Linked DNA regions of Homo sapiens. The protein of the gene in region 2 purifies or fractionates together with the protein of the main gene of each other region. This does not show direct contact. Each region holds a gene or a part of one and is shown on either strand. Other genes may lie near its edges. The genes, in order: SCGN and EBLN2.

Region 1 (4,264 bases), on a different chromosome or scaffold from region 2:
TGACTAGAACAAGGAGCCCTCTGAAAAGGTGAGAAGTTCCAGGTCCCTGAGGACAGATTTTTAGGAGCTGGCCATCCCATTTATTCCAAGATTTTGAATGGTTTTAACTTTGTCTTTTTGCTTTCCTCAAATACCCATGTCCATGATAGATAAGATGGGTTTCTGGAACACGATGAACCTTACATTTACAGATATAAGTAGAAGCCCTGTGGGCAAGGCTGGTGGGCTTCACCATGGGCTGCTAGCACGTGAAAGTGGCTGGCTAGATTGAAGCAGAAGCCTCACTTGGGGGAGGCTTCCTCAGCTCTACCTGTAGCTTGTGTAGGTACAAGAATGAAGGATAAAGAGGAGTGTGCGCAAGTGGTCTGACCAGAGGAAAGAAGGGACTTGTGTCTCTATCCTTCTCGTCTGCTGATCCTTTCACTTCACAGGCTGCACAGGGTAAGGGGTGGAGTGCAGGCAGACAAAGAGCAATAAAAGGTACAGAAAAAGGGAGATAAGAGACAAAGAAAAGGGTGAAGGAGAAAATGTGGAGAAAAGAAATGAAGGTCAAAAAGAGAGATGGGAAAGAAAGAAGAAAGGAGAAATAAAAGACATGGGGAGAGGAAAGACCAAAAGAGCTTTGAGAAGCAGAGAGACTGGAAAAAGAATGGGAAAACACAGAGACAGAGAGATGGAGAAACAAATGAGAAACAGAGACAAGAAAGATGGGCAACAGAGAGGTCAGAGAGAAAGGCAAGAAACAGTAGGAGATGAGAGCCATGAAACACAGAGATAAGAAACAGAAGTGAGCAGAAAAATGACAGAGATAGACATAAAAAAGAGAGACAGACAGAATATGAGAGGCAGACAGAAGTAGAGGGGGACCAAGAGATCTGTGTGGCTGAAGAAGGCGGAAGCCAGCCCTTTTGTTTCTGAACCAGCTTCCCCTGCCCCCCACATACCCTCCCCATGTTCTCAACAGTGGTGAAGAGCTCCTTGTTCCCTCACTGAGCTCTCACATGAGAATGTGATGCACTTCTATTCTTCAGATAAACAGCTGAATGATAAGGACAAACTATCTCCATCATTCATTTAAATTCAATTGTCCCTAGAGCGTCTCCTTCTACTATGAATGCCCTACTGGAGCTTTCATCAGATCGAGCCCATCCCCAGGCTGTCCTCCGCTCATGTGTTTCTGTGTAAAATTTTTCTCTGCTTTGATAGAGAGACTTTCAAGAGTTCATTTACATCTCCCAAGGACATATTTACCATCAGATGGACACTAGATAGATTGGCTTCCATTTGTATCTGGGCTCTGAGTATGCTGGTTGTTTTCTGGTTTGTCATTCCCTGAAAAATCTGTAACCTCTTCTAATAAAATGAATAATGGATAAATGATTTTAAATGGTTTGTGGTTTGCTATCAGAGGAGTATCATACATATTAAACACCCAAAATCTTAATGTGCTTAACATCTTTTCCAGCTTTTTGAACAAAGTGGGCTACTTTACCCCCAGGTATAAATCAATTAGCAGAGACATAACCAAGGAGACGTTCAAGACCAAGTTAACTGAGTCTACAGTTAGGATCTCTGAGTGGATGACAGATGTTACACTGAAAGTCAGTAACCAGCATGTCTAATGCTACAGTTGCACCTTTTATAAAAACTGCCTAAATCCCTCTATGTTGCTAGGAGAGGGGGAGAAATTACATACATGCAAGGAAGAAAGGAGGTGAGTTGGAATTAATAGGTACCAATCAATATAAGACTTGGATGTGCGTATCTTACTAAGAGGCATAAATTAAGGCTTAGTGTGCAAGTACTTACATCAGTACCCAGTTTCATCAACATGTGGAGAAAGAAAGCATCGAGTTCCTTCTCTTCTATGTAACCTTTTTCTAAATGTGAGAAAATAAACATAAATAATACTAACATATAAAAAACACATGACAGTATTTATCTAAATATGTTTTTAATCTCACAATTCATAAAGCTTCCCTCAACACTATTTTTTGTTATTCCAATAACAAAGTGCCAACACCTACCTCTAGAATACATGGGTTTGAACAGTAAACACTGTTCCAGAATACGTGCTTTATGCTAGGGTTTATATTAGTGCTTGGAAAAGGAAGGCTATTAAGTACATGAATTTTAATCAATGAATAAACGTGAACTTTCCAATAAAATTTAACCCCAAAATTTCTGAAGCTTGGAGAAACTTAACAGGTGTAAGTATTGAATCCCAGTTTGCAGAGTTAAAACACACCTTTTAGATATTTTATTTCTTTATTAATAAAAACAAATATTAAGTAGTTCCATTTTATTTTCAAGTAGTTTTTTGGTGGAGGAGTCGTTTTGAAAGCTGATAAAATTTATTCTCATTTTGAGAGAGTGAGGGGTGTACAGCAAAGTCACTGCGTAAAAGTGAGCCCATTTAGGGAAGGATGACTTCAAATAGCTGAGTCTCAGCCCACAAGCCTTGAACATATACAATGATATTAGTCATTGTATATACAATATATATGTATGTCTACCATATATATGGCGCGCTCGCACACAAAGAGAGATTGGAAAGGGGAAAGTGGAAATTCACCACCCAGAATTTTAACAAGGTATATAGATGTGTATCACCAGTATGCCAAACGTCTGTTAATGATACTGTATTAGGTACACTGCATTAACAACCCAGGTCGATAACTTTTCCTACAGTAAAGGGGAAACTCCAGGTCCTTTCAGCGGGCTGAGCTTGGAGCCACGTCTACACCTGAGTGTGCAAGTGGCTTGTTCTACTCACCATCCGCATCAAAGCGCTGCCAGACCTGCCAGAAGCCAGCGGCGTCCAAGCGCCCCAGAGTCGGTTCCCGGGAGCTGTCCATGGTGTTGACGACGAAGACCAGGCACCGGCGCGGAAGGACCTAGACAACTTTGGGAAGGACTCCTTCACCGTATTTCTTGACTTGCTCTCCTGCTTCTTTCGCTATCTGATTAGCTTTGAGTAACTGTTGCTGGGGAGGACGCGAGCGCTGCTGGCCGTGGCGTCGCTGAGCCGTCCCTCAGCCCTCAGCAAAACCAGCGGCTGGAAGCCCGCCCCGCTCCTGGCGCGCCTGTCCCCGCCCCGCCCTGCGCGCTGTCCTGGCAGATCCTGTCTGTCTCTGCGCTTTGGGGAATTCAGGAAGAAAGAAACTGTCTCCAGGCGTCCACGGCTCACTGCTTTTGCCCTTTAACTTGCTTCTCAGACTCGGAGAAGACATCCCTCTTACGTTTGACTCACTTTCCAAACTTGTGTCTCAAGGGGTTTTCTAGGGAGAGCTGCCTCATTTAAAGGGTTGCAAGAAGTGTCAGTGTTAGGGTCCTTTGGACTTGAGGATTTAGAAATGTAGTGTGTGGAGAGGGGAGGCGAGAAGGGATGGTGATGGTGGTAAGTGGTTCCCTTTAAGGAAGAAGTCAACAGCAATTATTGAGTCCTGATTGTATAGGACATACACATTGCTGTACCAAAATGCACTATAAGGACTTGCAACTAAACAGGGATACTGCAAGTCACTGTGATTTAAAGTAGCATCATTAGGATGCTGAGGAAAATATAAACTAAGCCGTACTCTGCCAGGAAAAGAGAGTCTGGGGGAGATGTGTCTGCCTGCAGGGTACTTAGGTAGAAGGCTTAGATGATTGTGTTTGGCTCCTAAGAGCCACATTAAGACCAAAGGATAAAAATCAGTTGGAGGAACACAGAGCTTTCTAACAATCAGGACTGTTCAAAATTGGGCAAGGCTTTGTGGAAACGTGTACAAACTACACTGATACCTTTTGACTATATATTTAGAAATTTTCGTTGGATAATCTATAGAAAGTGCTTGGATATTAGATAAGAAAGTTGAACCAGATGTAACTTTTCTTTATGGCACCCTGACTCTGGTTTTAGCATTCAGATTTATTTATAAAAAGCATGCATGTATAAGTCATCTAAACCAGAGTAGTGAAAAGAACATGACACTCAAGGTCAGATAGTCCTGGGTCAGGATCTGAGTTCCATTATTTACCAGCTTTGTGAACTGCACCATTAGTTCTCATCTCCCTAAGCCTCAATTTTCTTATCTATAAAATGAGGATTAAAACATCTGTTTTGGAGGGTTGCTGTGAGGATCAGAACCATACATAGTAATGCACAATGAATTATATCTGCTATGGTGTTGTAGCTGATGAGGGATGACTCTGTTAGAGAAAACAAGTAAAGTCTAAGAGATTGTCATAGCCAAGAGGAACCTAATGAAAAATGACAAAG
Region 2 (3,999 bases):
GGGCTGACAAAGAAACCTTTGGTCGATTAAGTGGCCTGGGTGTCCCAGGCCCATTTATATTAGACCTATAATAAGATAAATGAACATCATTTCCTATTTTTATAAAAAGTCATCCCTCTTAAGGTATGTTGATGTGAATACATCACAGAAGTATTTGCTGCAACTTTGTTTTCAGGCCCATGCCTTACCAAATTAACTAATTCTATGTAGTTCATCCTATGGTGTCCATAAAATGCCCAATTTTTAAAAAGTACACTAAGCCTGCTACTCAAAATCAGGACAATGCAAACTCTGTAGGTATTAAAAATCTAGAATCTCACCTCTCAGTATAGCTTGGTGAATTTCCAGGAAACATAACACCATTCATTCGATTTAAACTATTGGAATTGTTTTTCCTATAAGAAAAGAAAATACACTTGTGGATGACTTAATTTTTTTTTAGATGGAGTCTGGCTCTGTCACCCAAGGTGGAATGGAGTGCAGTGGTGCAATCTCAGCTCACTGCAACCTCCACTTCCCAGGTTCAAGCAATTCTTATGCCTCAGCCTCCCAAGTAGCTGGGATGACAGACGTGTGATGCCATGCGCAGCTATTTTTTTTATTTTTAGTAGAGACGGGGTTTTGCCATGTTGGCCAGGCTAGCCTCAAACTCATGACCTCAAGTGATCGGCCCACCTCGGCCTCCCAAAGTGCTGGGATTACAGGCGTTAAGCCACCACACCTGGACTTTTTTTTTTTTTTTTTTTTTTAAATAATGAGAATTAGTTCATGTTAGGAGTGCATGGATCTATGATTCCACCCAACACTCCCCCCTCAAGATCTTACGGGGTAGATGCCATTTGAAGCAAAGGGAGTGTGATGGTTGATCCTGGTATAACATCAGGAGCTTTAAATCCCAAAAATGTGGGGTTGCTCATCTTGGCCCAGTAGTTTGCCGCTGTTGCTAAGTTTGGGAACATTCGTGGTGACAGCTCCCCAATAATGGGGTGGCAAAGTACACCCCCAAACTCAAAATATTTCCCCAATGCCTTTTTAACCATTGTTTTTTTTCTCCTCAAAGACTGGGATCTCAGACACAATGGCCCGTAGAGCAATGGAGCCATCCATGCACTGATCTAGAAACATTCTCACAGCATTAATAGGTTGTCATCTGTGCTTTCTTGGCAACTAACTTGACTTGCGTAGCTTGTGTAGAGGGGATTCAAAGTCTCCAAATAGAAGTGTGAACATTAATTCTCCAACCCATGGTCTTGAGCTGATCCAACCTATGGCTGATTCTGCATTGCAGCTGATTAGCAGATCAGCACTCTCACCATGTGAAAGTCTTCCAATAGATGCCATCATTGCCTTGAATCGTCTCTGAACTTGGAGACTGCTGGTGCAAATCTTATCACTTGATCCAGCCGCAATGCCTATCAAAAGGTCACAGCAGTGGCGGAGAACTGATGACTTCTCAAGGGCAATAAAGTTAGGCATATCTTTGAATCTGCTAGCATAAGGAGTACCCCTTTCCTCGTTCTCATTCCCAACCACAGTATTAGACCTCTTGCTCACACCAACACTCAGTAATGCCTGGTGTAACCCATCAAATATGAAACACAAGAATACTAAACTTGGGGTCACAGGGTGGAAATGAGATTTATGTGCTGGGTCTAGCATAGACTTGGCTGCTTTTTTAATGTCCTTAATATCCCCAATGCTGGGTTGGGGTTCCAATGCATCCAGTGGATACTGTCTGTTTTTCCCAGATAGCTCAAATCTTCCTTGAAGGTCAGGGAGCCCACTCCTGTCCATTGCGTCATCTCCTGGGCTGCTGGGCTGTGAGTCCTTTCTTAGATGAGACATTGTGGAAAATTGGTTCCGACTTAATTCTTTAATTTTGTTAAGAATCATAGGTCTAAAAGATCTTTTGTAAGATCTGTCACAGACCCAAACAAAAAGACTGTGAGAATTAACATAAGCATACAATTTAAGAAAATAACCCATTATTAGTCGCTATGACTTGACTCTGCACTTCTTTACCATTTTTCCAAAATACCTCACGTTCATGAGCAAAACAAAACATATTTTGCTTCATAAAAGAAATTTTTATCATGTATACATTTTAATAGTTTTTCTGTCAAGAAATATAGTATGGGATTATTTTAGTATCTTATTTAGCAACATAACTATATTCTTGGGAACATTCTAAAAACAAATTGACTGGGCTGGGTGTGGTGGTTCACATCTGTAATCTCAGCACTTTGGAAGGCCAAGGCGGGAGGATCACTAGAGTTTAAGGCTGCAGTGAGCTATGATCACTCATCACCGCACTCCAGCCTGGGTAACAGAGTAGTCTATGAAAGCAGAGCCAGATTAACCTTAAACCAATGGTTCTCAGCAGGGGACAACCTCCCCTCCCTGCCTTTCACATCTCCAAGAGACATTTGGCAATGTCTAAAGATATTTGGAGAGGGGAACACTACTGGCATAAGTGGGTAGAGGTCAAGGACAGTGCTAAACCTCTTATAATCCCCAGGACACCCACTCACAACAGAATTATCTGGTACAAAATGTCCATAGTTCCAAGGTTGAGAAATTGTATCCAAATTTAATTCTTACTTTGCTATATCTAAATCTTGACAACTGGAAATATTTTCCATCATAAAGAGAAAAGCCATCAAGTAGTTATTCCAAACATGGGAATTATGCCCTAGAGACACCCTGGAAAGGCATCTAGAATGGCATCTCAGGGCAATGAGTGCCACCACAGTATGTAAATCCAACAATATTAAAATTACAGTAAATCACCAATCTCTTTAATCCAAATCTCTTTAATGGAAAAAACATATAGATAATGTTATTAGTAATATTCTACTTTGGGGACTGAATGGTAGGTTCACAAGTATGTTATCACACTTAATTACATATTAAATAAATTCAGTCTATTTTAAGAATAATATATTAGAAGCAATAAAATGATTAAATATAGTAAATAATATACTAGAAATAGAAAAAATATACTTACTCTGAAGAAGGATAAACACAGCTAACAACCATCACATTCTGCAATAACAAAAATCAGTGATTTAGTATGAAGAAAAGTACTACAACATAAAGTTTCATCATTTTTGTTTCTAAAATCACTCTGGTGGGTTAAATTCCCATTGATTCTAATTTTGCTAGTAAAGGAAAATGGTTAAAAATGAAAACTGGTGAAACAGCAAAAACTAAAACAATAACAAAGGACCAAAAGAGAATATCCTACTCAGCCACTAATTTTTTTTTTCCTATACTTATTTTTTACCCTAATCTAGTTATTCTAGACCCGTAACATCATACACTATACGTAGTAGAGTAACTAAGCTCAGATGGAATCAACAAAGATGTTGAGAGATTGAAGTACTTAAGACATATGTAATTGATTTTCCTTACAAAGCAACACCCAATCCACGGCTTGTTGTGTTGCATCATATATCCCACAGAAAGAGACTCAAACCTTTTTTGTAATATATTTATGATCTTCCCAGTAAAAATAACTTTACTAATATTCAGTGTTCACTGAAAGTTTAGTATGAGTCACAGTAAGTGTTTTGCATTTAATCCCCCTCCCAGCCCTATTATTAACCACATTTTACAGAGGAGAAAACTAACTGGCCCAAGGTCACACAACTATGAAACACTGCAACCCTGATTTAAAGGCAGGGCACCTGGTATGACTACTGTAACATATTGCTACTTTATCTGAAAATCTCCAAAATGTAATTATTACAACTCCTGGAGCTGAAAAGTAAGTACTGATGAGCCATCTCAGTTTCCTGGCCTTTGGGGATATTATTCAATTGAGTGTACAGAGGATCAACAAAATATATTAATCCAGTATGGCCACAAAAACTACTGTAAATCACTATGTAATGGTTTTTGATTCCTGTTCCCAGGGTAAAATAAAGTGGATTTGAACCAGATCCTTAAATGAACAGGGGAGTGTTTCCGGACCAACCATCAACTGAAAATTAGAAC

Evidence for each region.
Region 1: the proteins of EBLN2 (region 2) and SCGN purify together in Homo sapiens (affinity purification with mass spectrometry; one large-scale study listed by BioGRID and IntAct). This does not show direct contact.

What each region holds. Positions count from the first base shown.
Region 1 is NC_000006.12:25,650,998-25,655,261, reverse strand, and holds the start of SCGN (secretagogin), read right to left. Parts: upstream 3,048-4,264; 5' UTR 2,859-3,047; coding exon 2,777-2,858; intron 1,881-2,776; coding exon 1,810-1,880; intron 1-1,809.
Region 2 is NC_000003.12:73,060,069-73,064,067, reverse strand, and holds EBLN2 (endogenous Bornavirus-like nucleoprotein 2), read right to left. Parts: upstream 2,410-3,999; 5' UTR 1,987-2,409; coding exon 1,168-1,986; 3' UTR 731-1,167; downstream 1-730. Other genes in the region: PPP4R2 (serine/threonine-protein phosphatase 4 regulatory subunit 2), read right to left, coding at 1-65, 321-395, 3,008-3,045.